Linked DNA regions of Homo sapiens. The protein of the gene in region 3 interacts with the protein of the main gene of each other region in a biochemical or structural test. Each region holds a gene or a part of one and is shown on either strand. Other genes may lie near its edges. The genes, in order: TRPC5, PPP1R9B, DRD2 and NCS1.

Region 1 (7,035 bases), on a different chromosome or scaffold from region 3:
AATGTATGTCACACCACAATCAGTGTCAGGAATGAAGGAAATCTGCTGTATGCATTCTTTTAATATTCTGAGTGTTTCTCAGTGTGGAAATTGAATGCTTTAAATGATGTGGCAAGGATGCATGGTGGTGAGGGACAAGATAACAAAGGGAAGATGCCTGCAGACTTAATTATCTTCTTTACTTAAAAGATATAAGATCAAAAAATCTGTTATTAAATCTAAGGTCTTAAGAAACTCTACCATTAAACATTAAAATTATACTAGTGGCATTAGCCTAAAACAACCGTTTTCAACCAGGGGCAATTTTGTCCCCAAGACCACATTTGGCAATGTCTGGAGATATTTTTGGTTGTCACACTGGTATCTAGACAGTAAAGACAAGGTTGCTACTAAGCATCCTACAATGAATAGTACAGTCTCCCACAACAAGAATTATCCAGTCCAACATGTCAATAGTGCCAAGATTGAGAAATCCTATCCTAGAACACATCTATATATATATTTTTTAATTTTTTTATTATACTTTAAGTTCTGGGATACATGTGCAGAACATGCAAGTTTGTTACATAGGTATACATGTGCCGTGGTGGTTTGCTGCACCCATCAACCCATCATCTACATTAGGTATTTCTCCTAATGCTATCCCTCCCCTAACCCCCACCACCTGACAGGCCCCTGTGTGTGATGTTCCCCTCCCAGTGTCCATGAACACATCTATATTTTCTAAGGCACACAGAAAGTCCATTATCCTAATTCATAGACATAATTCATCTACTGAGGGTCTGCTATGTTCCAAGCACTCTGCTAAGTGCTCTGGTACAGTGGTGAGCAAGATCTAACCAGCTCCTACTCTCAAGGAGTGACAAACAATAATAAAGGGTGATGAACAATTTTATATTCTGACAGGTTAAACACAGGACACTGTGGAAACACAGAGAGGAGGGACGCTCATCTGGGACTTGGGGAGTCAAGACAGACTTTCCAATGGAAGTGATGCTTAAGCTGAGGCTTGAAAGCAAAGCCAGCCAGATAAGGGCGAGTTGGGGAGAAGAATGTTCTAGACAGAGAGAACAGCATAGGCAAAGGCCCAGAGGCAAGGGAGAATATGTCCATACAGGTGGACAGCAGAGAGCCTAGGAAAAGAGTAGAAAGATGAAACTGGAGAAAGCAACATGTACTAGGCCTTGAAAAACCTTGTAGTCCATGGTATGGCATTTCTACTTTTTCCTAAAGTCAGTGACAAGTTAGTAACAAGTTTTGAGAAGGGGAAGTACATGAACAGATTTCAGCTTGGCTTTTAAAGGAACAATCTAGTATGTAAGCAGCCAGTTGGAGATAGAAGACATTTCATAGAGGTTTGAACAGGGCCCCCTGTCTCAAAACAGCAGTCTCATCACCTGACATTCAACTTTTCTAGTTTCACTCGTTAGAGTCTTAAAAGCTTTTTCCTCTTCAGTAGTCCTTTTATATGCAGACACCTGAGAGCCAGTGTCCTAATCTAATAACTTGTTAGTTAATACTTAGCAGGAGTTAGTCCTTATGAAAGCACCTCAACAGACTAATCCCTGCTAAAGTGTTAGCTAATCCTGAATCAACTTTACCCATTGTACAATTTTGCCAATGGCCAGCCCAGCCCTGCCCATGGAATTATTAATATGTTTTTCTTGTGTTTGAATAATGGCAGATTTTTCTGGTGTTTTGTGATTTGCTACTAGGCAAAAACCTGGAACATACCAAAGGTATCTAATGTGCCTACTTTGAAATAAAGACCAAGCTTCTTGACATAATATGTCTCCTCTCTTTTCCCAGGAATTAAAGCAAGACATCTCCAGCTTTCGGTATGAAGTGCTTGACCTCTTGGGAAATAGAAAACATCCAAGGAGCTTTTCCACTAGCAGCACTGAACTGTCTCAGAGAGACGATAATAATGATGGCAGTGGTGGGGCTCGGGCCAAATCCAAGAGTGTCTCTTTTAATTTAGGCTGCAAGAAAAAGACTTGCCATGGGCCACCTCTCATCAGAACCATGCCAAGGTCCAGTGGTGCCCAAGGAAAGTCAAAAGCTGAGTCATCAAGCAAACGCTCCTTCATGGGTCCTTCTCTCAAGAAACTGGGTCTCCTATTCTCCAAATTTAATGGTCATATGTCTGAACCCAGTTCAGAGCCAATGTACACAATTTCTGATGGAATTGTTCAGCAGCACTGTATGTGGCAGGACATCAGATATTCTCAGATGGAGAAAGGGAAAGCAGAGGCCTGTTCTCAAAGTGAAATTAACCTCAGTGAGGTAGAATTAGGTGAAGTCCAGGGCGCTGCTCAGAGCAGTGAATGCCCTCTAGCCTGTTCCAGCTCTCTTCACTGTGCATCCAGCATCTGCTCCTCAAATTCTAAACTTTTAGACTCCTCAGAGGATGTATTTGAAACTTGGGGAGAGGCTTGTGACTTGCTCATGCACAAATGGGGTGATGGACAGGAAGAACAAGTTACAACTCGCCTCTAAGTCAAGCCCTAATCATCTGTTCTGGAACTCAACAGAAATCTGTAATTTCCTTGCTCTCAGAGGTGACACAGAATATGATTCCCTCACTGCCCCTGCCCCCCAGAAAGGAGAGTGAAACTCTTATTTGCACCATCTTTTATAGCCACATTCTCCATTTTTGTTCTTGTTTTATTATTACTTTCATTATTATTTGCCTTTTTAATACCTATACACACTAAGTCCATCTTACAACCGACTGAAGGGGTGTTGCACCTAATCATCAGAGGTGCAGTTGGGTGCTTAACCTTTTTGCTTTGCTTTTCTCACCCATGCTTCCTTGAAGCCCCAGGTGCCACTTTGCTGGTCTTGTTGCCGCACAGATTCCTGACCATCCTCAGAATCTCATGCCATTTTCCCGCAGAGCTGAGGGATGTGGTCAGCAGTCCCCACCAGCTATCAGATAAGGCAAACTACCCTGCCCATCTTTGTTGCCATTCAGTGCTACGCGCTGCCCATGCTGGGTCAATGAACAGCATCAAAGGGAGGCTGAAGAGATTTCAAAGAATTGTCAGCTTGTGGTTTCTGGGTATAAGTGGCTTGTTTCGTTCTTAAATACTACAACTTCTTATTGTGGGGGCTATTGAGTTTTCTTGTTTCTTAAAGATGTGTTAGTTTCCTAATGTGTGCCAATGAAATATTTACCCCATAGTATATGTCATATCTAATAAGTTAGGCGAATTATTTTTCTGTTTGTGTGTTTCAGTTAACTTACTACATTTGAAAATTTGATAGTATCAAAATTAGTATTTAGAATTTGTGCTATTTTTTAAAAACATCTACTACACTCTAACCAATAGTCACTACATCTCATACATTGGCAAGATAAATAGTTGTCATATTTGTTGGGTCCTATTCTACTGTTGATAGTTTTAATTATCATTGCTATCAAATAATTTCTAAGATAAAAGCCTGAATTTGAAATATTTTTATCAGAAAAATGGCATATTGCTGAAGTGTCAAAATATGAGAAAAGAGCATCTTCATTTTAATTAACTGCTTTATAAAAATGGCAACTTTAGGTATAGATAACCTAATTCAGGTTGCAGTTTTAATATTCATTGGGGGCAGTGGAATTGCATGTGTAAATTATGTTAGATATATATCATAACAACCCTAGTGGATTCATGGAATTATAAACGTGATCCAAATTCTACTGTCTTCCAAGAAAGCTACATTTATACATCCAAACAAATTCTTTTCCACAGCTTAAGAGTACCTCATCAGAATACAGTGGTTCAAGTTAAAAAATAAAGTCCATAATGCATATGGTCATCATTCTAGACCTGATAACCACTGAGAACCTGCTGAGCAAGGACGGCTTTTACCAACATTAGCACAAAGGTTTCCTCAGTTTAGACTCTAACATATGACCTGAAACAACTCTAGGTCTGAGTCCTAGAGATTACATAAATAGTGTGTAGCCCAGAAAAGTAAAATAGGTGTCACGCTGTTTTTTTTAATGTCAACACCAATAGGAATCCATTTAGATTAATGTATGTAATTTCTGATAAAAGTAAGAGAAATGAGGAACTTTCGAACTGCAAATATGCCTCCAAACTAGCTTTTGATAAGTGTGGTTTCTGTTATTTGAATGGATTCCCATCTTTGTCTCTAGCCTGGAGAAGAGCAAAATGGAGGGGGAGGGGCCAGAAATAGGAGGAGGTTTTGAAGAATAAAGCCTCATATCCAGGAAAAAGTGATCAAGTGAAAAAGCTGCATCAAGACCCATTTGGCAAGAGGTTGTCCGAAAATAATTCCTTGATCATATCTGAAGTGGTTATTTACTCAAATCAATTTCTCCCCTGCTTCGCTAAGACTGTCATAAAATGGCCTTGACATTTAATCACAGGTTACTTTCCAGAAAGGTTTCTAAAGTTACAGATTCAGCTTTTCAAATTGTCAAATTCACTTTGAATAATAATAGAACCTGGGCTACATTCCTAACTCATATTAACAGCACCAAAAGAAATAGCATATAACCCCATTTTATAAAAAGAAAAACATGTTTTTCTCAGAAATGTATATCACTTCTGAAAACTTATAAGTTTTCTAGCAGTGACCTTATCAACTTGTCAGAAAACAGGCTAGCCAGACATGGAACTGTATTCCAAAAGTCTTCTGTCACTTACGTTCTAAAGAGATAATATGTGTAAATCAATCTCTACTATTGAAAGAACCAGTGTCATATGTCACGGGAGTACATTCCTTTTCAGATCTTCTCAGGGTTATCGTTGTGACTTGGGCTTAAGACTTTACTAGCTATAGTGAAGCCTCATTTAGGATGGGGGTTAAAGCTGAACAGCTATTGCCCTAACTTCCATGTTGGTGACACCAACATTTTTATTAACTCTAATTCAGTACAAAGTAGGAAAGGAAAAAGATTTTGTTCACTTCCTTACTCTCTTGATCAAGTATCATAAAAGGTATTTCAAGTGAAAATGCTTAGGTATATCCTCTGACCCCAGAGGAGTTATAAGCCAACTTGAGAGTAAATTTATAAACATAAAAAGAACTAAAAGAGAACTTTATAAAGGATCTACTCTATTCCAACCTCATATTTTACAAATAGAAAATAAAGAGGCCCAGAGAAGGACAATGACTTGCTCAAGGTCACAGAGCTGGTCAATAAACTCAAGTCTTCTAGATTATAGAAGACATTTATTAGTAAGCATATATGTTATATATAGATGTGAAGTGGCCACTACAGACACCCTTTTGTTCATTTGCCAAAAATGCTGTGAACTCCAAAACTTCAGACTTACATATTTAAATGTGAAGTTAAAAATGTACTGCAAAGTCAAACACAAATAATACAAAAATCATTTACTACTTATCTAAAATATCCATATCATGTTCCACCTACATTACAGTTGGCTTATCACTTCCGGACACCTTGGATTCATTTATTTGATCTCATAAAATCTCCCTAATAATAAAGGTAAAAATTACAAAGAAAATATTTGAATTATATTAGAAAGTGACCATTGTTGAAATATCTCCACTTCCAGCTTTATGTCCAGTGAAATACAGAGGAAAGACTAAATTTAAAATCATTTTCGGAAAATGCCAAACTTTACAGAGATATAAATGCTTCAAGTTACGCTTCTGTCTACTGACATGGAGATATTAAAAAATTCCCTGTTCTGCCTCCATCATTTTTCATTCCACTGTGACCTAACTTAGGCTATTTCAGCTAAGTCGTAAATACCTGTCTGCAATTTGATTAAATCATTTTTAAAAAACGAACGCCTCCACTTTTCAAATGACTTAATACCTTTTCCAAAAAGAACTTTATAGTTCTTATGGCAGTGCAAACCTCATCTGAAAACCTCAGTGGGAACTTTAGAGATAAATATGAGGCCAAACCTTAGCCTGAAAATACAAATGACCATTGGCATTCATGTTACATCATGGGTGAATCTCGTGTGGTGTTTTGACTAATAGTTTTAGTGCCCCAGACCTTGGTTTGTTAAATCATCAGGTAAAAAGTACTTGAAGATAGGCAGCAAATCCTTTGTTTAAAAGTACCTTAGAAAAATTGAGGCTGGGCATGGTGGCCCACTCCTGTAATCCCAGCACTTTGGGAGGCCAAAATGGGTGGTTCACTTGAGTCCAGGAGTTTGAGATCAGCCTGGCCAACATGGTGAAACCCATCTCTACTAAAAATACAAAAATTAGCTGGGCATGGTGGTACACGCCTGTAGTCCAACTACTTGAGAGGCTGAGGCATGAGAATCACTTGAACCTGGGAGGCAGAGGTTGCAGTGCACTGAGATCACACCACTGCACTCAAGCCTGGGCGGCAGAGCGAGACTGTCTCAAAAATAAATAAATAAAGGTACCTAAGAAAAATTGAGTATATTTTCTTGGTAATCAAGTTTTCAAAAGATTGCTCATATAGACATAGTCAATGCAAATTGATCCAAGTGTTCAGATCATTTAAATAACCTCTTCATACCTACTTCACAGCCCTACCTTCAATCCCTGCAGCTTTGCCTCAAAACTAAGGATATTTTAGATTGTTTCTTTGGCTTACTTTATCTAGATAATTGCTCCAAATATCCACCTTGTTGGTGTAGGACTCGGCAGTGGGATCTGAGTACCCCAAATGAATGTGAGCTTTACTTCAGCAGAGAGAAACATTGTTACCATTATATTTCCAATGAACCTTCCAGTAACTTTTTTTCCAACAGATGTGGGTTTTGGCTTGCTTTGCCTTTTGAGGGATGTCTGTAAAAGTGAGAACGTGTCTGTGTATATACATAGACACACATAACAAAACTTAACAGCATTTGATGGTTCTGCCCTTGGCCCTTTATCCCTTTAGGTAATTACTAGATCATTTTGAAGAGAGGGAAGCAAGAATAACTTTTCAATGAGACATTTCCTGAGCTGTGAGGAATTGCCAAAATGAACTGCCATGACAGCATCTTCTGTAGCACTTTTATATTGAGAGCTATCAAGATTTGAGGTTCCTGGTTTTGTTTAAAAAAAAAA
Region 2 (7,108 bases), on a different chromosome or scaffold from region 3:
CTGCTTCAGAGTCCCAAGAAACACTACAGTCCCCCATTCCCTTCAGAACCCCACTGCCTTCAGGAGGGGAAAGGGGTTGGGAGAGGACCCCGCAGGTCCCAGCCCAGGGGAGAGGCTGGCCTGAGAGCCACTCACTTTTAACCTTTCAGGCCTCTTGCTGGGGTGGGAGGTGGGAGAGGGGCAGAGGCTGACATTCTGGGCGAGTGAGAGGAAAGTTGGGAAGCTTCAGAGTCCAGGAGTAGTTATGGAAACGACAAGCAAACAGATGGTGCTTTGGCTAGGGAAGGGTAAAGGCAGGGCAGGGTCCAGGCCAAGGAGAGTCCAGGGACCTGGACACTTCCATGGGGCGGACCTGGGGCCGGGTGCAGCTGAGCCTGGGGCGGTGAGGAAGAACCCTGCAGGCTGAATGTGCTAGCCAAGAGTGGAGGGTGGTGGGAAGTGGGGGGAGGGGTGGCCTGGGGTTTTTGATTCCCCCCAGGGGATGTTCCCTCCCCATCAGGGCTGTTCTGAGGATCTCAAAGCTCTGGCACAACCCACAAACCAACCACCAATAGTGGCCGTGGGGATGAGACCCCCAAAAGGGGCAGCTCCCATCCCTCTTTCAGGGCTCCCAGAGAATGTGGCAAGAACACTTGGGGCCTGCCAAGGCCATGGGAGTCTGTCCTATTGAGCAGCCAAGAGTAAAGGCATGCCCACTACTGCCAGGCACCCAGGGGGATCCCAGCCCCACCTCCTCCTCCTCCATGCCTGCAGAAGGCCTCTCCCCATCAAGGACCACACAAAGTGCCCCTCCCTGTGCAAGGAGGACCGGGCAGCTGGCCTGCAGGGACCCCCAGGGAACACGGCGCCAGCCAGTCACATGGCCACAGACCAGCTCACCCTCACGATCTGCTTCCCTCTTTCACTTCTGCAAAGTTGGGGTGGGGGTACAAACAGAATAGAGGAAGGGCTGCCTGCGGTCCCCTGCAGCTTCGTTTTGAGAAGTTCCTGGCTTTCCCCTTTCTCACCTCATCCAGCTCCCATACAGGGGGAAAGCACCCCGGCCCCCTCTCTACCCAGTGAAGGGCAAATGTCTCTCCTGAAGACACACACACCCCTTCACACTACCCAACCCCAGCCTCTGGCAGCCTCTGGAGGAAGGAATGTCCGGGTGAGGAAGGGAAAGCAGGTGTCCCAGGACCCGCGTGGGGCAGGGCGGGTTCCGCGGAGCGGCGGGGCGGGGCAGCAGGCGGAGGAACCTGAGGGCAGGTCGGGGCAGGCCACCCCCCTCGCACACCTGAAAATCCCTCTCTGACAAACAGCTGGAACTCCCCCACGCCCCCCTGAGGGTGGGAACTTCTGGGAAGGGGGCTGGGTGGCAGGGGCTGACTCAGCCTGCCAAACCCGGCTGGCTGGCTGGCGAGCGGGGGCGGCCGCGTGCACGTGGCAGGGGCGGCGCGGGGGCAGGGCGGGGGGGCTCACTTACTTGGATGGGCGCCGTGCTGAAATGGATCTTCCGGCTCGGGGCTGGGTCCTCCTCCTCCGACAGCCCCGGGATCTCCACGCACCCCGACTCGGGCTCGTAGGGGGGCTCCCCATCCTCCTCGTCGTCTTCGTCGTCCTCCTCCAGGGCACTGCCCGCAGAGTCCTCCCCGAGCCCACTGTAGGCGCTCACGTCCACCAAGTCCGCCTCCGAGAAGTCCTCCTTCTTGGATTCATCTACCTCCTCAGGGGCCACGTCCGGGGCCCGGCCATTGCCCACCCCCCTCTCTGGCGGCGCTACCGCCGCCGCCTCCTTCTCCGGGGCCGCTTGGGCCTTTGGCTCCTCGGGCGCGGGGCTGGCTGCAGTTGCCACGGTGCTGCCATTCTCCAGGGCCGCGTGGACCGTAACCTCGGCCTGGATCACCTCCCCGGGCGCCGACTCGGCCTCCGACTCCCCGCTCTCCTCCACCTCCACCGGCTTAATCTTGCGCACCTCCCGGGGCTTGGGGGGCGGCCGGGCAGGGGCCACTCGGTGCTGCGGGGGCTGCTGCCCTGCGGGGCATCGCTCTTTCTCGGCCGGGGCATCCCCCGACGGGGCGGGCGGCGGCGGCGGCGGGGGCTGGAACACCCGGGACCGCTTGCTGACCAGCTTCGAGTTGACCTGGGGAACCCCTGCGGCCCTGGGGAGCCCGGGCCCGCGGTGGAGGCCGGTCCTCGAGTCGGCCTTCTCGAAGACGGCGCTGAGCTGGCTGACCGTGGGGGACACGGCGTCAGCGTCCAGCTTGTCCAGCGCCTCGGTGCTGCCGTTGAAGCGCACCACGACGTCCAGCTTCCGGTCCTGCAGGCCGGCGCGCTCCTGCCTCAGCAGCCGCCGCGCCGCGGCCTCCTTGTCGCCGCCTGCGGCCGCTGGGGCGCTCCGTTCGAACAGCTTCCGCGTCTCCTGCAGCCGGGACGGCGGGTGCGGCGGCGGCGCAGGCTGCGCGGAGGGCGCGGGCTTGGAGTCGAAGCGGCTCACGCGCTCCGACACGCTGGTGCCCAGCTTCAGCAGGGCGCTGTGGTCCACGTTCTCGTTCAGGCTGCTGGCCCGCGGCAGCGACAGGCGCACGCCGCGCTCGGACGCCCGTGGGGCCTCGGCCAGGCCCGCGCCGCCGCCCGCCTCGCCCGAGGGCCCCGCCGTCGTGCCCATCTGCAGGAACATACTTTTGATGCGGTGGACGTTGGAGCCATATTTCTTGTGGTGGGCCCCCTTGGGTGCCTCGTCGGGCCCGGGCGCGTCGGGCGGCTTCAGCGCCTGGATGCCCGCCTCGTAGGCGCTGCGGTGCGGGGAGGCGCTCCGGAGGGGACCCCCGGGCCCCCGTGGCTCCGTCTTCATCATGGTGGGGGGAGCCGGGTTCGCATGCCCCTGCTCCCCGCTCCCCCGCTTCAACAGGCGGCTGGCCAAGTCGGGACCACCGCCCCCTCCCCCCGATAAAAGAAACCCCGAAGGCCTTTTTTAGGGTCCCCCCAAAACCAAGCTGCCAAAAACAGTTAATCCCGCTTTAAAAAAAAAAATGAAAAAAAAAAAATCTCCAAGCGCCCTGTGTGTGGGTCGCCTCCCCCAATCAAGCTGCCGAAGACAGCCAGCCCCGCTTCAAAAGCCCGAGCGGCCTGGTACGGTCGCCCCCACCCAAATTAGCAAAGCGGCGTCTGGGGCCGGTGGGAGCGCGCGCCCTGCCCGCGAAGCAGCCGCGGTGTCGCCGGCTCACATCGTCCGAGACGGTGTCAGCGGGGCTGGCAGCCCGGGCGTCCCCCAGTCCGGCCGGAGGCCTCGGCTCTCGGGGGGCCCGGCACCCCAACGCCCATGGCTGCTCCGCCGGCCCGGGCCGCTCCGCCGCCGCGCCTCCCTCCCTCCCTCCCTCCCCCCCGTGCCCCGAGCCTCGGTCTTTCTCTGGCTTTGCCCGAGCGGCGGCTGCCGGAGACCGAGCGGCTGCCCTTCTCGCAGCCGCCGCTGGGGGACTGGCACCTCTGGGTCCTAAAGGGATCGGATTTCCGGGGCCGGAGCCTGTGAGCCCTCCCCTTCCCCTCCACCCGAACGGATCCCCTCCCCTCCCCAGCCCTCGCGGAGAGCCTTCCGCTGCCCCCGGACGTTGGCCAGCACTCTTCAACCTGCTTCCATCACAACTTCTGACTGCGGTCACAACCCACAGAACCGCACCTCCATGAAATATTGGGGGGAGGCAGTACATCCACGATGGTCTCAGTGTGAGGGGAGGGGGTTTGTAGGGAGGGGCAGAGGTTCATTCTTCAGTGTCCTCGGAGCTAGCTCTTCGGTGTGCTTCAAGCCTTTAGCATCAGAATCGCTGGGCACTTGGTAAAAATGCAGATTTCTGGGATCTCTCTCGAACCTTGTGAAGGAGAATCTCCGAGGCTGAACCCAGGAATCTGCATTTTAACACTTCACTACAGGCAATCTTTGGCCCCCTTGGAGGTGTGAAACCTTGGTCCAGCGCTGGTGACCTTTCGATGGTGGGGGAGGGGTGGTGAAGAAAGGAGGTGAACCCCGTCATCCAAGTAGCAGGGGATCACCAAAACTGCCGAAGTCTGGAAAGGATGTCCTGTCGCCTGTCTGCTGTGCACCCGTCTTCAGGCCCCTACCCTGGCACTCCTGCCTCTCAAACCGGAAGGAAGGGTTTGGGAGCAGGAATTCGAGAGGCCTGGGGCCAAAGTTTCGCCAGTGAGAGCTCTAACTTGGGTCTCTGATTTAAAGGATCCTGGCCACTGTGTTCCGGTTGGGGTGGGGGGGTGGGGAGGGTGACAGTGACTTACACATCCCCTGTCCTGGCAACCCAGAAAGCTGTTTGATGCCCTCTGCACCCCCCGCATACACAGCTAGGGTGCTGGCGCTGCCTGGGCCCTGGGTGTGAGAGTCCGCCCTCTGGACAGGTCCAGGTGAGCTGGTTCATTCCACACATCCCAGAAACTGGTGAACACAATGGGCCCTAGGACCCAGAGAACAACTCAGGCACAAAGCCTCCCCCCACTCCCAGCTGCTTCCTGCATCTCAGGCCTTTCTGCGGCCTCTGCCTCCTCCCCCGCCCTCTTCCCCTCCATCCTCTTCCTCCTTTTCCTAATCTCCCACTCTCTCCCCCCTGGCCTGGAAGGGCTGGCAAAGGGAGCCCTCCTACCACTCCACTGCAGGGGTGTGTGTGGGTTTTGTGGGATATTAACGCGTTACCATGTGCAAAAGAGCTTAGAGTACAGCGTGGGGGATGGGGTGTGGGGAAGCCGCCTGGGAACCCTGGATATTGGGATCGGGAGGGGCCAGGAACCGCAGGACTGATCCTGAGGCTGGTGCTAAGGAAGAGGGAAGATCTAGGTTGTGAGCTAGAGCCGGAAGTGAACCCAGACCTCACACTTTCCAAATGCCACCTGCATCTTTGCCCAGTTGCCCAGGAAACTTACCCCTCCCCAGTTTTGCACTTTGGGATGGTGCAGGGTGAAGAAGTCTGTCTCCTAACCCTTCTTAGAAGGCCTCTGTCAGGAGCAAGCTTTGGGACTTAGATTTCCAAACTCAAGATTGGGTCTTGAAAACCCCTCCCCACAGGCCCCCCAACCCCAATATAGAAGTCCGGAGAAGACAGAAACCTCACCCAGTTGGGGTTTGGAAGTTTGTACAATGTACTCAGAAGCTCTTGTGTGGATTGGAGGAGGGCGCAGGCCCCTGTGTTCTGCCCAGAATCTCCCACACCCTTGGTGGTAGATCATCTTAACTGGTCCCAGCCCAAGGGGTCTGTGCCCACGCGTCTGGCCAGGTGGGGAAGCCCCCAGTTTCTGAGGGTGGGAGAAGGAGCTGAGAACCAGCTACCAGGCCCAGAGACCCTCGGACTCCCAGCATTTCCGGTAGCAGCTTAGAGCAAACTGGAATTACAGGGGTGCTCTTGGGTCTCCCTTGTCCAAAGGATTATGAATCTCCGGACAAACCCCTTTAACAGACCCTTCTAGGGGGTTTGGGCTTCAAGAGGGTGGAGCTAGCCAGAGCTTGGGGGACTGAGGCTAATCAGTGGGATTATTATTTCATGGGCTCCTGGTTAGCAGAGCAACACCCTGGCCAGAATTCCCAAAGACGCTTTTATGGAGCGGTAAGTGCTTCACCATCACTTGTTCTCTGGTGTCAGGCACCAAGCCGGCTGGCCTGTGAGATGGGTGAAGAATGGGGTCTCATTCCCTCCATCCCTTCTCTGCCTGTCTGGAGCAGTAATCGCACCTGATAGGAACAAGGAGGGTTTGGGAGGGTTACCATCCAAACTGAAGGCTTTAAATAGAATTTTCATTCATTGGGCTGTCATCTTCACCTACATCCTCCAGTGAGGAAGCACTCCAGGATAATTTAACCACCCTTTCTCTTTCCTTTGTCTTCATGGAAGAGACTTTGATGGCCAAGTTGCCCAGTGGTCTTTGGATGGAAGTTCCTTCCTTACCTTTGCCTTGGCATAGAGTGGTTGACCTAGGAGCCAGGCTGCTAGGGTTCAAATCTTGGCTTCACTGCTTACTGGCTGTGTGACCTTGGACAAGTCACTTATCCTCCTCTGTGCCCTGGGAGGATGAAAGAAGGCCCAGAAAGGACGAGAGTGGCTCGGACACAGAAGATAGGGTGTGGGGGAGGAGACGCCTTTCCCAGCCTGTGCTAAAAAGGCCAGAGGCTGCGATAGGCAGAGATAATTCACCCCCAACTCTCCTCCTGGTAACCGCCCCCCTGCCACAGCTTTCCCACACCCCCCCAAATCTGCTTAGGGCCCTTGGGAAGATGCTCTGTTAGGACTCTTCCCCAAGGCTTGCTAGTTTTAAACACCAGGTGTAACTGCAAAGATAGTGATGAAGGCAGGGAGAGGCCTGACGAGCGATAAGTCCCGAGCCCTCAGCGCCCTGGGCGCAGGCCCGGGCTGGGTGCCAAGGCTGGCTTCTCTTTCCAGCCCTGGGGCCTTGAGACTCAGCTTCTAAAAGCGGTTTTTCCTTGGCCACGGTCATCTAAGCAGAGGCTGGCCCAGACCCTGCACTTGGATCCTTTTGTGGTGAGCCAGTGGTCCCCACCCAGTTGCTCTCCTTCAAGAGTTGACCTCTGCCAGGGATTTGGGCTGGTTATAGGATGCTGGAAAGGTATGCTGGAAAGGTGTGTGTACACCTCAAATCCAGGATGTCAGTGTTGGAGGGGCCTTTAGTGGCCCTTGGCTGACCTCTTCACAGGGAGAATGACGAAAGCTGAGAAGTGACATACCTAGTTTTAAAGGAAACAGACCAGGCTAGGGTTCATGAGGCCTGAATTGAGTCCTAGCTGCACTCATTTGCTGGATGACCGTGGGCTAGTCGTGTCCCCTCCCAAAGCCTGTTTCCTCAAAAAGCTTAGCTTGAGTGTCTGAGTGTTTCCTGAGCATAGATAACCCTAGGTGTCCCTCACTTTTGTGCATGCAGCACAGGCCTTGAAGCCAGGCCATCTCTGTTAGAATCTCCAACCTCCCACTCCCCAGCTAAGGGGCTTCAACAAATTCCTTCATCTATAAGATGAAGATAATATACCAACTTCATAGAGTTTTTGTGAGGAATAAATGGGTCCTCAATGCATAAGGCACTAAAAGGGGGCTCAGAGTGTTGGCTGTTACTGATTGCAGGGTAT
Region 3 (7,035 bases):
TGCCTGTAATCCCAGATACTTGGGAGGCTGAGGCAGGAGAATTGCTTGAATCTGGGAGGCAGAGGTTGCAGTGAGCTGAGATCATACCATTGCACTCCAGCCTGGGCGACAGAGCAAGACTCTGTCTCAAAAAAAAAATAAAATTAAATTAAAACAAAAACAAAATAGGAAATAGAAGCTTTGGAGAAGTTGCCTTTCTTCACCCAGGTCACAGGGAGAAATGCTGATGGAGAAATCCCAAAGCAGATATTATTCTCCAGGAAGACACCTTCAGAGCCAGCGAGCAGATGTGGGAGCATTTAGGGATCATCGGTGGGCACAAGCTGGATCCTGCCCCTTTCTCTGCCCAGCTTTCTAGGATGGCATGTCCAGGACTCAAGCAATCTGGGAGTCTAGGTGCATGGGAAGGCATGGGATCAGGCATTTAGGAAAGTGCCGGTGCTCTGCCCACTGAACCGTTACCTTCCTTCCCTGAGCAGGAGAGGAATTGACCAGTGCCTCTGAGGCCATCCCTGCCTGAGAGGGAAGGGGTTGTTGAAAGAAAATGAGAAAGCTTTGTAGGTTTAAACAGGGGAGAAATCTAGATGAGGACGCTCAGGTGAGGAGGCGAGACTGGTGGAAAGTGGCACACCTCCCTGTCCCTGGGCCCCCAAGGGGCTCGTGCGCTTACTGTTCTCACCACCACCCCGGGCCCAAGGGAGCTCTGATCCATCACCCCTTGGCTTCCTTTACTACAGCCAATGCAGGCTGCAACTTCCAAAATGACCTGACTGGATATTAAGGAAGAACCAAAAGGAAACACAAATACAAAACCACATAAAAATATTCAGTTGACACAGGCCAGGAGTCCAATTCCCCCTGGATCCATGTTTATGAGGGCCCCTAGACTCTGTCCATGCCTTCTTAATTCTTACGCTTGATCCCCTCCTTCTTCCCTCTTCCAAAGGAGGGTCCTAGGTCTCAGACCATAGGGAAAAATGGTAGAGCAAACAAACTCTCTGTGCCTCAGTTTCCTCATCTGGAAAATGCAGATAATAATAGTATCATACATCATAGCATTGTTGAGGATCGAATTAGTTGATGTATGAAAAGTGATTAGAATGATACATGGCTCACAGTGAGCACTGTGTAAATGTCAGCCATGGCGATGATGATAAAGATGAAGATGACAATAGACATCCAGCACTGCTCCACATAGGGAGGACTCTGTCTTTCCTATTCACCGCCCCCTTGGGATAAAGAGGAAGGAGAGAGTACTCCCTATGTTCGCCCCAGGCAAGTAGGTACCCTCTTCCCAGAGGAACGTGTGTTCTACCCAGGGCTCTGGGCATGGCTTCTGTTAGCTTCCAGACCCCCTGTCCCTACCCAGGCACTTGGGTAGGGACAAATCCATACATGGGCTATAGGGGGTTCCCAGGAATCTGTAAGTCTTTCGAACAGATCCTTTAAACATGCTTGTTCACCTTATTTTAAAGGTGAAGCTGAGTGTGTCAGGGGAGGAGGGTGCAGAAGCCATTCTCAGAGGGCAGGGCTCAGACTTCCCCACAGCATCTCATCAAACTAGAGCTGGGCACTGAGCCTTGTTTAATGGACATTATCTCAGCGATTTGTTGTCCCTAGAGAACGTCCCAGGTGACGTCTCACCCTGCCCTGATGTCCTATCAGCGCACCCTCACAACCACGCACTGTCCCCTCTCTAATACATGCTCTTGTCATCCAGATTTTTTCCTCCTGTTCCATTTCCAGCAATGCCATGCCAACATCTGTCTGGCTTAGGACTAAGTGTGCGTTATTTATCTTGCTAAGTGTATGAAAAGCACGCTGGTTTTGGAGTGAGAGGACCAGGTTCAATTCCCAGCTCCATTCCTTTCCATCTAGATGCTATTGGAAGAGTTCCTGATGTCCACATGTGCCATTCCATGTCAGCCTCACAACCCTTTAAGGAGCGGCTTCCTGTGTGCATTTATTTTCTAGATGAGGAGATTGAGAAGATGAACAAATATCTCAGAGTTATTCATTCACTCAGTCAGCACTGACTGAGCACTCCGAGGTCTTACCCCAATCCTTGTGCAATGGGCTAAGGCACTGACCTGCTGGGGATGCAGAGGTTGACAGGGCCCCTACAGTGCAGTCTGCTGCCGGTGACAGTGGAGCAGTCCCCATAGGAGGTGTGGGGCATAAGGCCCAGCATGAGGGTGTCAGGGAAGACTTTCAGGGAGAAATGATGCTTTCGGAAAAATTATGCAGGAGAGGGAGGGAGACACTTGCATTCTCAAGAAAGCCACCCAGCAGGGAGAGGGAGTAGCTGGCTGGAGGTATGGAGGAGAGGTGGTTATGTCATTTGCCTCTGAGGCTTACTGTCTGCATTCTAAGATATAAGCATCAAGTGTTTGGAACAGTGCCTGACACATGGTAAGTCCTTAGTATTATTACAGTTATTAGGACTTAGCTGAGCCAGCTCAGGGCCTGTACTGCAGGTCTCAGCTTTATGTGAGCAAGAGCATTAAGGAATGATGCCTGGATGCCTGGGGGTGTGAAGAAAAGAGCCTTGGGTTCGACTAGGGAACCTGGGGCCACTCCTTCCTCTGCTACTAAATCACCAAGTGATCTTGTTCTGTTTTCTTCTCTGACCCTCCCTAGTTTTGTCCACCCTTGAAATAATCATCTTTCCTTTTCACATTTCATGCTTACCAAGTACTTGTCACCTAATTATCTCCTCTCTTGATAAGCTAGATGGTCCCTTCCAGGGCAGCTTAGTAGAGAGCATGGGATGTGATGTTTCAGATTCCAGCTCTGCTGCACACCTGCCAGGTGAACTTGGCCACGTTACATGGCCTCTCTGGGCTTCAGTTCCCTCACCTATGAGTGGGATAAGCAAGCCCTTCTTGTAAAAGTTTTAAGAACGATACATGAGATAAAGTGCAATGCCCACAGTAGATGTCTTATGGACAGTGGCCACCAATGCATTTTCTTGAGTCTTTAAGTTAGCAGCCCTAACTACTCTCCAAGGCAGCTTCCCCTGGGACCACAGAGGAAATCTCTTTGTTATTCTGGGCTCCAGATAGGCCAGTGCAAGGAGAGATTTAAGATGTCCATGAAGGCAGGACTGTGTCTGAATTGCTCACAACTGTGTCCAGGAGCCTAGGATAGAGGCTGGAACACAGTAATTTGCTCAATAAGTGTTTGTAGGAAAGAAGGGATGGCAGAAAGGAGGGAAGGAGAGGAGGAAGACAGGGAGGAAGGCCCTGATATCTCAACCTAGATCCCCAGTGGCTCCCAAGTACTGGTCCCAGGAGGGGCTTCAAAGTGGGATGTAAATCAGGTAGTGCTGGTTTTCTGCCCAGTGGTACCCTAAAGGCACACTCTGTTTATGCCAGGAAAGCCCTTTACGTACCCTCCTGCCTCCACCCGCAAAATGGGCATCCAGCTGTTAGCTCCTGCCAAACTGGTCAGCGCAGCAGCACAGGGAGCTGGGAGAGAGGCCCTGGTACGGGGCCCCCATGTGAGCTCCCAGGAAGACAGTGCCGCATGAGAGGCTTGCTGTGTTCTGGGGCAAGCTGCTGTTTCTGCCACACAGGATGACAGCAGCTGCATTGCCCATCATTGAGCTTAAATGCCAGCATTTGGTTGGATGCCTAGGAGCAGAAGAGAGGGCAGTGATCAGAATGAGCAAGGTTATAATTAGCCCTGCTGCCAAGCTACACGGTGACACGAAGTCTGCCCTACTCCGGGTTGCGGGAGGGGGCTTTCACGCTCCTCTCTGCTCCTATTGGTAGAAGCCAAAGGTGCATCTCCCTGTCCTGACTCCATCCTCAGGGAACTGGGGCTGCTCCAAGCTTCCAGAGCGCTAGGGACAGCTGCCGTGAGTGTGTGCCTGCGTAATCTGCCATGAGTGTGTGCCTGTGTGTGAATGGGTGTTACGTGGGGAGGGGGGAGGGCGGTGCGTTCATGTGTGTGTGTGTGTGTGTGTGTGTGCCTGTGTGCATGTGTGTATGAGAAACGTGCTCCTGCCAGGAGCTAGACTCTTCATTTCCCATCCTACCAAGGACACAGCTCATCACAGCAACCCCTCCGCCTACCCCAGCCCACTCGGGTGTTCCTCGAGCACTAGCCCAGATCTGCCTTCTTTCGTTCTCTGGGTATAAGAAGGAGCAGAAATTTCTTCTCTGTTTCATGGCGAGTCTTCATCTTCACCATTATTCTTAACAGATCATTTTGGGGCCCCGACTCTGCCATGTACTGGGCCAACCACTGAAGGGCTTGCCTGGCTCAGCCAGAGCCTGGGCCAGAGCAGGACTAGGAACTGAGCCCACAGGCCTTGGGGAAATCACTGCACTTTTTGGAGGCTTGGTTTCCTCATTGGTTCTCAGTTTCCTCACGGGCATTCTAAAATTTTACCTGGAATCTAATTTACAGAGGTATGGCTGAGTGATAACACAGGGAAGCCAGTGCCATTGGGAAGAGTTTAACGTGATACACAATGTCCCTAGAAACCAGATGCTCAGCCCGCCATGTGGGGTGCAGGGGGAAGCAGCAGGCTTGGGTCAAGAGTCAGAATCAGGGGTGAGGGAAAGCCCAGGCTACAGCCCTGTTGGGGCTCCCACAGGAAGTGCAAGGCAGGGCAGATTAAGCAACCTAGGGTTGGCTAGTCTCAACATCCTGGCAGGCTTTGGGCTACAGGGGTGATCTCTAGTTGTCTCTCTGGTACCTGAGATAATTTGGGACAGGGGAAATATTGTCTTGGTGTGTGTGTGAATTAGAGAAACGGGGTGGCTGGCTTGCATTTGAGAGGCATCCTTCCAAGTCAGTCATTTTCTGTCTTCAGGAATTAACTAGCTCTGGGACAGTAAGTCTCTCTCTGGGTCTGTGAGGCTCCCAAGTGCCAGAATATCAGGATCAGAGAAGATAGAAAAATATAGTCAATATAGGTGTCTCTGTGATGAATGGGTGCCAAATACACAAATACAGAATCTAAGAAAACACATGGGGTTAACAAAGGTTGCAGAGATTAAGGTTTAAAGTTGAGGCCCTCCGTATAAGTTGGCTGTCTTTCTTCTAGCACAGTAATTGGCAATAAGTGGTCTTATGTATCTGGGAGAAGATAAGCGAGGGGCAAGGGCCTCAGACACCCATGGGCATCACTCCCCACACCCCAGCTGGATGCCCACAAGACTTGCAGCTGCCTCCTGAGTCTGTGGCCTCATCGGCTCCAGGAGTACCAGGCTACAGGACCTAAGCTAATCTCCCACTCCTGCTGTCCATCCATTATGTTGCTTTGTCCCCAGGTGGTAGGTGAGTGGAAATTCAGCAGGATTCACTGTGACATCTTCGTCACTCTGGACGTCATGATGTGCACGGCGAGCATCCTGAACTTGTGTGCCATCAGCATCGACAGGTGAGCCCAGCCAGGGTGGAAGAGGTTGCTCTGGCCACTCACCATTCTGGCTGCCCCAGCTTTTCTCAAAGCCAGGCTGTGTCTCGTGTCTGTGATGCTGTGCAGCTGGCTGTGTGCATGGGGGTCCATGTGTTTGTGTGTATGGGTGTGCATGTGTGTATGTTTGGCTAGGAGAGCACACACTCCCTAAAGAGAAGCCATCTATGGACAGTGATGCTGCCAAGCATACTCAGACAGTGACTGGTACAAAAGGGGAAAGATTGTGATTCTGACGGAAGCCCTAGCTCTAGCACATCTTACTCATGTGACCTTGGGCAGATGATGGACGTTTTCAGAGCTCTCAGTTTCATTTTCTAGAAACCTACATTGATGACACCTGTGGCCTGGAGCTGCAGTATCTGGTTATGCATTTTATGTCCTTGGCACATGGCCAAGGGTCCCAGGCCATGCACACCTTGCTAAGCTGCATCCTTGGAGCCTTCCACTAATTTGCACAGATATGACCCTACCTCCCTCACACCATTCTTGGAAGATGAAATAAGTTAATGAATGAGAAGGGCTGGGTAAAAAAAAAAATGTGATGAAGGATTGTAGACAATTGCCATTGTTATTTCCTGCTAACTAAGGCTTAAATCTTGCTCTGAGGGGCCTGGCTAACAATTTATCAACAAACATTTCCACCTTATGGGCTCAACACAAGTGCAGTGGGTACAGTTTCAAAAGTGCAAAGATGCAGGCCATGGTTCTTCGAAAAGCCTGAAATCCAGGTGGGGCCGGTTAGAATAATAGATATGAGCTAAGAGTAAACAATAGCTCACCAGTGATTAAGTGTTTGGGCTTTGCCAACTGTCCTCGCCATCTGAGTTTGGGGACAGGAGGGAGGGTTGAGTTAGCATCTCAGGCAAGCTTCATAGAGGTGTGTCAACTGTTTAGCCCCAAGGAGTGAGGGTGTCTCTGGTGTGTGCATATTGTGGAGTGAGGGGTCCCTGGGCCTGCACCCCAGATTCAGGGTCCCCCGCCCTTGCAGGTACACAGCTGTGGCCATGCCCATGCTGTACAATACGCGCTACAGCTCCAAGCGCCGGGTCACCGTCATGATCTCCATCGTCTGGGTCCTGTCCTTCACCATCTCCTGCCCACTCCTCTTCGGACTCAATAACGCAGGTACATTCTGCTTTTGTTTGCCTGAGGCTCAGCTGGCCCTGGGCCCCTGCTCCCTCGAAGGGCCCTGAGGGAGCAGAGTCCCTGGCACAGATATGGGTGGAGGCCCAATGGAGGCCTATCACTACCCTGGACTGAGTCCAGGCTACGTGTCCTGGGCCAAGCCCCACTCAAGAGTTGTTCTAGGTTGGCAGAGAGGAAACAGTGGCCCAGGACACAACGGAGTTGGATGAGGAGTGGGGATAATGGTTCAGGGGTATGTCTGGGAATTTTCAACTTTGGTTATTAAGTTGAAGAGGCAAGACGTGCTTCACAAACTGCATGTGTGTATATGTGCACATGAACATGGGATGGCGGAGGCTACTGGGCTTCCATCCACTCCTGACAATAGTATTTTTGTAATGAAGCTGCAGCCCTCAGGGCCTGCTAAACCCAGGTCAGGCCTTAGCCACCTGGAGCAGGAAAGCTAGAAGTGAATA
Region 4 (6,435 bases), on a different chromosome or scaffold from region 3:
TGTTTATTTTTTATGTATTTATTTTTTTGAGGTGGAGTCTCACTCTTTTTGCCCAGGCTGGAGTGCAATGACGTGATCTTGGCTCACTGCAACCTCTGCCTCCTGGATTCAAGCGATTCTCCTGCCTCAGTCTCCTGAGTAGCTGGGATTACAGGCACACACCACCACGCCCAGCTAATTTTTGTATTTTTAGTAGAGATGGGGTTTCACCATGTTGGCCAGGCTAGTCTCGAACTCTTGAACTCAGGTGATCCGCGTACCTTGGCTTCCTAAAGGGTTGGGATTACAGACATGAGCCACCTCACCTGGCCTGAGTATGGATTTTTGGTTCTTTGGGTATATACCTAGGAGTGGAGTTGCTGGGTCATATGGTTAACTCTATGTTTAACTTTTTGAGGAACCACCAAACTGATCTCCAAACTAGTGACAGCATTTTGCATTCCCACCAGCAAAGGACAGAGGTTCCAGTTTCCCACATCCTTGCCAACGCTTGTTATTTTCCATGAAAAAAAAAAAAAAGGTAGCCATCCTAGTGGGTGTGAAGTGGTTGCCTCACTGTGGTTTTTTGTTGTTGTTGTGGTTTTTGTTTTTTGAGACAGGGTCCCACTCTGTCTCCCAGGCTGGAGTGCAGTGATGCAATCTCGGCTCACTGCAACCTCTGCCTCCCAGGTTCAAGTCATTCTCCTGTCTGAGCCTCCCAAGCAGCTGGAATTATAGGTGTGCGCAGCCACGTCCGGCTAATTTTTGTATTTTTGGTAGAGACCGGGTTTCACTGTGTTGGCCAAGCTGGTCTTGAACTCCTGGCCTCAAGCGATCCTCCTGCCTTGGCCTCCCAAAGTGCTAGATTTACAGGTTTGACCCACCACTCCTGGCCCTCCCTGTGGCTTTGATGTGTGTTTCCCTAATGACTAGGGATGTTGGGCATCTTTTCATGTGTTTATCGACTGTTCTATGTGTTGTTTTTAATGGTTTGTAAACTGTTTTATCCTGTGGGTGTGTCCTAATGTATCCCACCACTCCTCTGATACTGGACACTTAGATTGTTTTCTCTGCTTCCATTTTTGTTTTCTGTTTTCTGCTATTACAGATGGTGCAGTGGTAAACATTTATTTATTAAGGATAAATATAGGCTGGGCACGGTGGCTCACGCCTGTAATCCCAGCACTTTGGGAGGCCGAGGCGGGTCTATCATGAGGTCAGGAGTTCGAGACCAGCCTGGCCAAGATGGTGAAACCCTGTCTCTACTAAAAAATGCAAAAAGAAATTAGCCAGGCATGGTGGCGGGCGCCTGTAATCCCAGCTACTTGGGAGGCTGAGGCAGGAGAATCGCTTGAACCCAAGAGGTGGAGGTTGCAGTGAGCCGAGATTATGCCACTGCACTGCAGCCCAGGTGACAGAGCAAGACTCCAACTCAAAAAAAAGCAAACAAAAAAAAACCAAAAAACCCAAAGGGTGCCTCAGAGGTTATGCACATTTTTAGGACTTCTGACATAGAATGCCAGCTTGCCATCTATCGACCTTCCTGCCAGCTCTCTGTGCCTATCCTCCGTGGCCAGACCTTAACCCCTATCCGCTGTGGCTGGATCTTAACCCATCTTGCCTCCTTGTGTCTTCCAGATGCCTGGGAACCACTCACCTCCTTCTGTGCCATGAGGCCACCTCAGCCCTGACACCAACCCCGTGCGTCCACCCAGCCTTCTTCCGCATCCACACACAGCCGGCTGCCCTTGACCCGGGAGGCCCCGGCTCTCCTCTCCCCTGTCCTGCACCCATCCCCCGCCTGAAGCCACCGGCTCCAATTGCCAGCAACCTCTGCTTGTCCGGAAAACGACAACACGAAATGGAAAAGGCTACAGCCCTCTGCATAAACCAAGGACTTGGCTGCCTCGCAGGCAGCCTCCGTTCCTCCCGCTCTCTTGCGCGTGTGCTTTTGTTTTTTATTTTGAACAGACGTTTTAAAAGAAAAAAAAACAACTACCTTCTGTCCTAGAAGACACAGACTGACAGATGGGGTGAAGGCCTGGGGACCTCAGAGAACTCTGCCTTGCCCTCGTCCCTCGTCCTTCGGCAGCCGGAGAGGCTGTGGGTGGGCCGAGGGTGTCTAGGGGTTCTGCCTGGTCAACGTTATTTGTCGTCCCATCTTTTGGCAGCAAAACCACCTGCGTGGCTAGGATGATTAATTATGAGGATGATGATTTTTTTTGTGATAACAGTATTGTGCTTTTTGTGGGGAAAGTGAGGTTTTTTTTTATATACATATATAATTGATATCTTTAATTTATTGGTTGTTAACTGTTGCTGCTGCCTGGTGTGTCCTCAGCTCCCAGGGCTGCGGGCCCACCGTTTACATGTGCACGCCCTGACCCACCTGCCCACGCCGACTTGGGAGGATGGTGGCCTGCAGCGGCCAAGAAGCCAAAAAAAATTTTTTTTTTTTCAGATACTGTGCTTGATTTTTGGAGAGGGGAGAGGTGGAAATTCCTAAATGGCTAATGCACTGTTCCCTCCAGCCCGAATGCCTCCTGCCAAACCCCTTTTCCCTGCTGCCTCTGTCCCCGCATCCTTGTTCTCCCCTGGGTCCGTAACATTTTTTCCGAGGATGAACAGGGGACATCTTTAGGTTTCTCAACTCTTGCTTTGGTGTTTGCCGCAGCATGGAAAACAGGGCGCCTAAGGCTGGGAGCTGGAAGAAGGGGCATTGGGTACCCAGGCAGAGTCAGGAGAGGTGGTCTTTGAAGTAAGTTAGCAGAAATCAAGGGGACCCCCGCCTCCTTGGGCTGGGGAGGGGATTTCAAGATAGTTCATGACTCTCTCCCGCTCTGCCTTCCCTCCTTCCTATCTGCTTTTTCCAGTAAACTGCATGGTGTCCTTCCCTGGCCTTCTCTTGGCTCAAAGGCTGGGAGGGAGGGAAGGAGAGAAGAGTTCCAGGCAATCCCATCAATATAGTCCCTACACCTGGGGCTGCGGCCCACATGTCTTCACGGAGGCTTCCAGCGGTGCCTGCCACTGAGGCAGGTGCGGCCCCAGGACCATCACCAGGAATGCGAGGCCACCCTGGACCAGAGGTAGGAGCCCAAGGTCCGGCCCTTGCTCTTTGATTGTGGGCAGCCTCCTGCCCTCTCTGGGTCTCAGTTGCCCCATCTGCAGAGCGAGGAGGCCCGGGCTGGTTGGTCTTGAAGGCCCTTTTCCATGCCGACATCATGTCACTCTAGGCCTGGGGTTCAGTTTCCTGTGGCTGGTGATGCTGTGGTTAAGTTTGCTTGACCCCAGCAGCCCGAGGGACTGTCTGAGTCACAGCACAGCCCCTATTGCGTGGCTGCTGGTGTGTGGGGTCAGTTCCAGCAGATGAATGTGTCATGTGGCACACCTTGTCCCTTCCCGCAGCATTTCCTGGTTCCCCCCAGACCCTTGAGCGCTCTTTGGGACCCAGAAGGAGTCCTTGCACAGGGAAGGCTTGAGGTGAGAAGCCGCTTCCCAGACTGTCAGGGCCAGGCCTGGGTCTAGAATTCTTGCTGCTGCTTTGCAGAGTCAACAGCCCATCAGCCCATGTTTTAGAGGGGACACTTTGGTCCTCGGTTCCCACCCTCAGCAAGCAGGCCTCCAGCCCGAGGAAGGCCTCTGCCGTAGTGACGTTGCCGTGTGGGGCTGCGTGGCTGTTCCCCTTGGCTGGAGCATTCAGCCAACCCCAGCGTCCCCCCTGAGGCGTTCATTGGCAGCCCCCTAGGACTGCACGCTGGCCCCACGGTAACCCCCCCTCCCCCACCAACATCCTGCAGGGATGGGGTCAGTGGTTCCACCTTCACAGGCCACTTTGAAGGGTGGATTCTTTGAGGCCCCTGCCAGTCGGCTCCCTGCTCAGCTGCTGGCCCGGGCGACCTGGGACTCAGCACCAACGGCTGAAGTTTCTCAGCTGGGCTCTGACCTGGGGTCTGGGGCAGGGAACGAACATGGTGGCTTTGGGCTGAGAGGATGAGGGAGGTCTTTCCCAGGTCAAATTACTTTCCTTTGGCCTCTGCCTGAGGCTCGATTTGCCTCTCTGGTCCAATGGGACTGACACTGTTGTACAACCTGACCTGTGGCTGAGGGTGTCTGGGCTTAAGCATGTGGACCCCTTCGGTGTGTCCGGCCTTCCTCCATCGTCCTGCCCTTTGGCCTTTTGGTTTGAAGCCACAGGTGTGGCTTCTGGCCTTAGCAGATGGTATGCTTGCGGACCGCAGCCCAGCATGCCGGTGGGCCCACAGCCCGAGCCAGCCCAGAGCTGCCGGAAGGGCCGCCCTTCCCGGCCCTGGCGGGGTGCTGGACACTGGCCATTTTCACTAGAGTTTGCCTGGCAGGGACCGATCTCTGCCCCCTCCTCTCCCCAGGCCTCTGGCTGCAGTGATGCCGCAGAATCCTGAGCCAGGTGCCTCCTGAGCAGCCCGTGCGCCTCTCCACAGCGGCGTTTGCCACCCAATGCGGCTCGCTTCAGATGCTCTGATGCAGAGGGCACGCCCATAGTCCCTCTGCAGAGCCTCGCACTGGGGCCAGGGCAGGCACCAGCCCCAGGCGGCCAGTCGGCCACGGCCTGTCCTCTTCCTCGTAGCGTCTGCTCCTCACTTTGTGTTGATGGTGACTTAGGAGAATGTTCCGATTTTCCATGATCTAAGCAGGCCACGTTTAAAATAACATCAAGGCAAGCGTACGTGTCACCCTCTGTACTGACATCTCTTCCCCTGAAATGCTTTTCAGTTTGACAGCCCGTTTCCTAGACAAGTGCACCTGGGGTTTCAGGAACTTTGTGTTTTTTCGGAGGGGGTTGGTGGGGAGGTCGGGATGCCTGGGATCCCTTCCTGGAGAGGCAGGCTGTCTCTGGAAAAAGCCTCCATTGCCCACCCGCCAGGCGGAAAGTCACCCTGTTCCCAGCGCGGTTTCAGCATTTAATTTTAAGGGAGCTAAGGAAGCGCGGCGCGCCCCCTGGTGGTGGTAAGCCGCCAACGCACCTGGGGGCTGCAACCCCACCGGACGGGTGGTCCGGAGGGAGGCTGGAGCGGGGAGGCGAGGAGGGGGCTGTGAGTCCTCAGAGGCCCTGGGCCACCACATTTCTGGCAGCGTTTCCCAGACACCCCTCTGCTAGGCCATCCCTGGATAGCAAGTGAATTAACTTAAGGGCACTGTGATGGGAAGCCTTGCCCCCCTCTTTTTTTTTTTTTTTTAATATCTGCGGAATAAACCCAATGGTTAATTTTTGAATGAATAAAAGGCTTTTGTTGAATAAACAGCTGGTCCCATCTTCTGTCTTGGCATCTTAGCATCCAGGCTCAGGCTCTGCCCCTTCTCCAGGATGGGGTAGCCCCGAGTCGCCCTCCCCAGTCTGCACATTCCCTGTTGTCCCTGTTCCTGCAGTGGCTCCCGGCCCCAGGGAGGCCCACCTCACTCCCAGCCTGACTCGGTGGCTGGCTTCCTTCAGGACTTTGCGCAAGTCAGTTCTGCTCATTGGGTCTCAATTTCCCCATCCCTTGGATGGGAGCAAGAGTCTCTGCTGGGCCTGCCTCGCAGGGGCCTGGTGAGACCCAAATGTGAGTGTCATCATCAAAGCCCCTCACAGAAGTGGAGGACGGTGCCCAAGAGTAGCGGTTTGGACTGCTGCTGCCTCCCACCCGGAGCCTGCCACTTGGGGGAGAAATTGGTATAATGCTTGCAAAAACAAACAAACAAAAGGCAATGTCTTCTGGTTGTGGTTATTTCCTTTCCTGCTTGCCTCCCCAGCCCCCTTTGAGTCTCTTTTTGGGGTGCCGTCCTGTCTGAACCTGCCGGTGTGTGTCTCTGGGGCCAGGGTCAGGGCGAGGCCCAGGGGTGGACAGGGGCCGTGTAGCATGCCCCAGCCTCCCCAAGCTCCTGCTGTATGTCGTCCATGTCACGCCAATTAAACACGCTTCCTGGACTTGTCCTCGCCTCCCTGTGTGGGCCTGTTGCTTTGTCTGTTTACATTCTTCTCCGTTTCGTTTTAGGTTTCTTCCCTTTGTGACACCCTTTCTCTGGCTTTGGGTGTTGTCTTCCCAGTTTCCTGAAGAGAAAGAATGTGTAGGCCGGGTGCAGTGGCTCATGCCTATAATCCCAGCACTTTGGGAGGCCGAGTTGGGCGGATCACCTGAGGTCTGGAGTTCGAGACCAGCCTGGCCAACATGGTGAAACCCCGTCTCTACTAAAATACAAAAATTAGCTGGGTGTGGTGGCAGGCGCCTGTAATCCCACCTACATGGGAGCCTGAGGCAGGAGAATCACTTGAACCCGGGAGGCGGCGATTGGAGTGAGCTGAGACCACACCATGGCACTCCAGCCTGGGTGACAAGAGCGAGACTCCATCTCAAAAAAAAAAAAAAAAAAAAGAGAGAGAAAGAATGTGCAAAGTGAGAACCTTGAGTATACTTTTAAACCAGAAAAATCTGCAGGAGTGTT

What was found.
Region 1: the proteins of DRD2 (region 3) and TRPC5 form a complex in vitro, tested with the Homo sapiens proteins (one study listed by BioGRID).
Region 2: the proteins of DRD2 (region 3) and PPP1R9B form a complex in vitro, tested with the Homo sapiens proteins (one study listed by BioGRID).
Region 4: the proteins of DRD2 (region 3) and NCS1 form a complex in vitro, tested with the Homo sapiens proteins (2 studies listed by BioGRID, with this or other methods).

What each region holds. Positions count from the first base shown.
Region 1 is NC_000023.11:111,771,777-111,778,811, reverse strand, and holds part of TRPC5 (short transient receptor potential channel 5), read left to right. Parts: exon of another isoform or gene 1-157; intron 158-1,809; coding exon 1,810-2,499; 3' UTR 2,500-7,035. UniProt on the Homo sapiens protein: Forms a receptor-activated non-selective calcium permeant cation channel. Mediates calcium-dependent phosphatidylserine externalization and apoptosis in neurons via its association with PLSCR1.
Region 2 is NC_000017.11:50,147,678-50,154,785, forward strand, and holds the start of PPP1R9B (neurabin-2), read right to left. Parts: upstream 3,001-7,108; 5' UTR 2,837-3,000; coding exon 1,466-2,836; intron 1,151-1,465; exon of another isoform or gene 1,058-1,150; intron 1-1,057. UniProt on the Homo sapiens protein: Seems to act as a scaffold protein in multiple signaling pathways. Modulates excitatory synaptic transmission and dendritic spine morphology. Binds to actin filaments (F-actin) and shows cross-linking activity. Binds along the sides of the F-actin.
Region 3 is NC_000011.10:113,416,387-113,423,421, reverse strand, and holds part of DRD2 (D(2) dopamine receptor), read left to right. Parts: intron 1-5,285; coding exon 5,286-5,395; intron 5,396-6,422; coding exon 6,423-6,559; intron 6,560-7,035. UniProt on the Homo sapiens protein: Dopamine receptor whose activity is mediated by G proteins which inhibit adenylyl cyclase. Positively regulates postnatal regression of retinal hyaloid vessels via suppression of VEGFR2/KDR activity, downstream of OPN5.
Region 4 is NC_000009.12:130,231,373-130,237,807, forward strand, and holds the end of NCS1 (neuronal calcium sensor 1), read left to right. Parts: intron 1-1,617; 3' UTR 1,618-5,931; downstream 5,932-6,435. UniProt on the Homo sapiens protein: Neuronal calcium sensor, regulator of G protein-coupled receptor phosphorylation in a calcium dependent manner. Directly regulates GRK1 (RHOK), but not GRK2 to GRK5. Can substitute for calmodulin. Stimulates PI4KB kinase activity.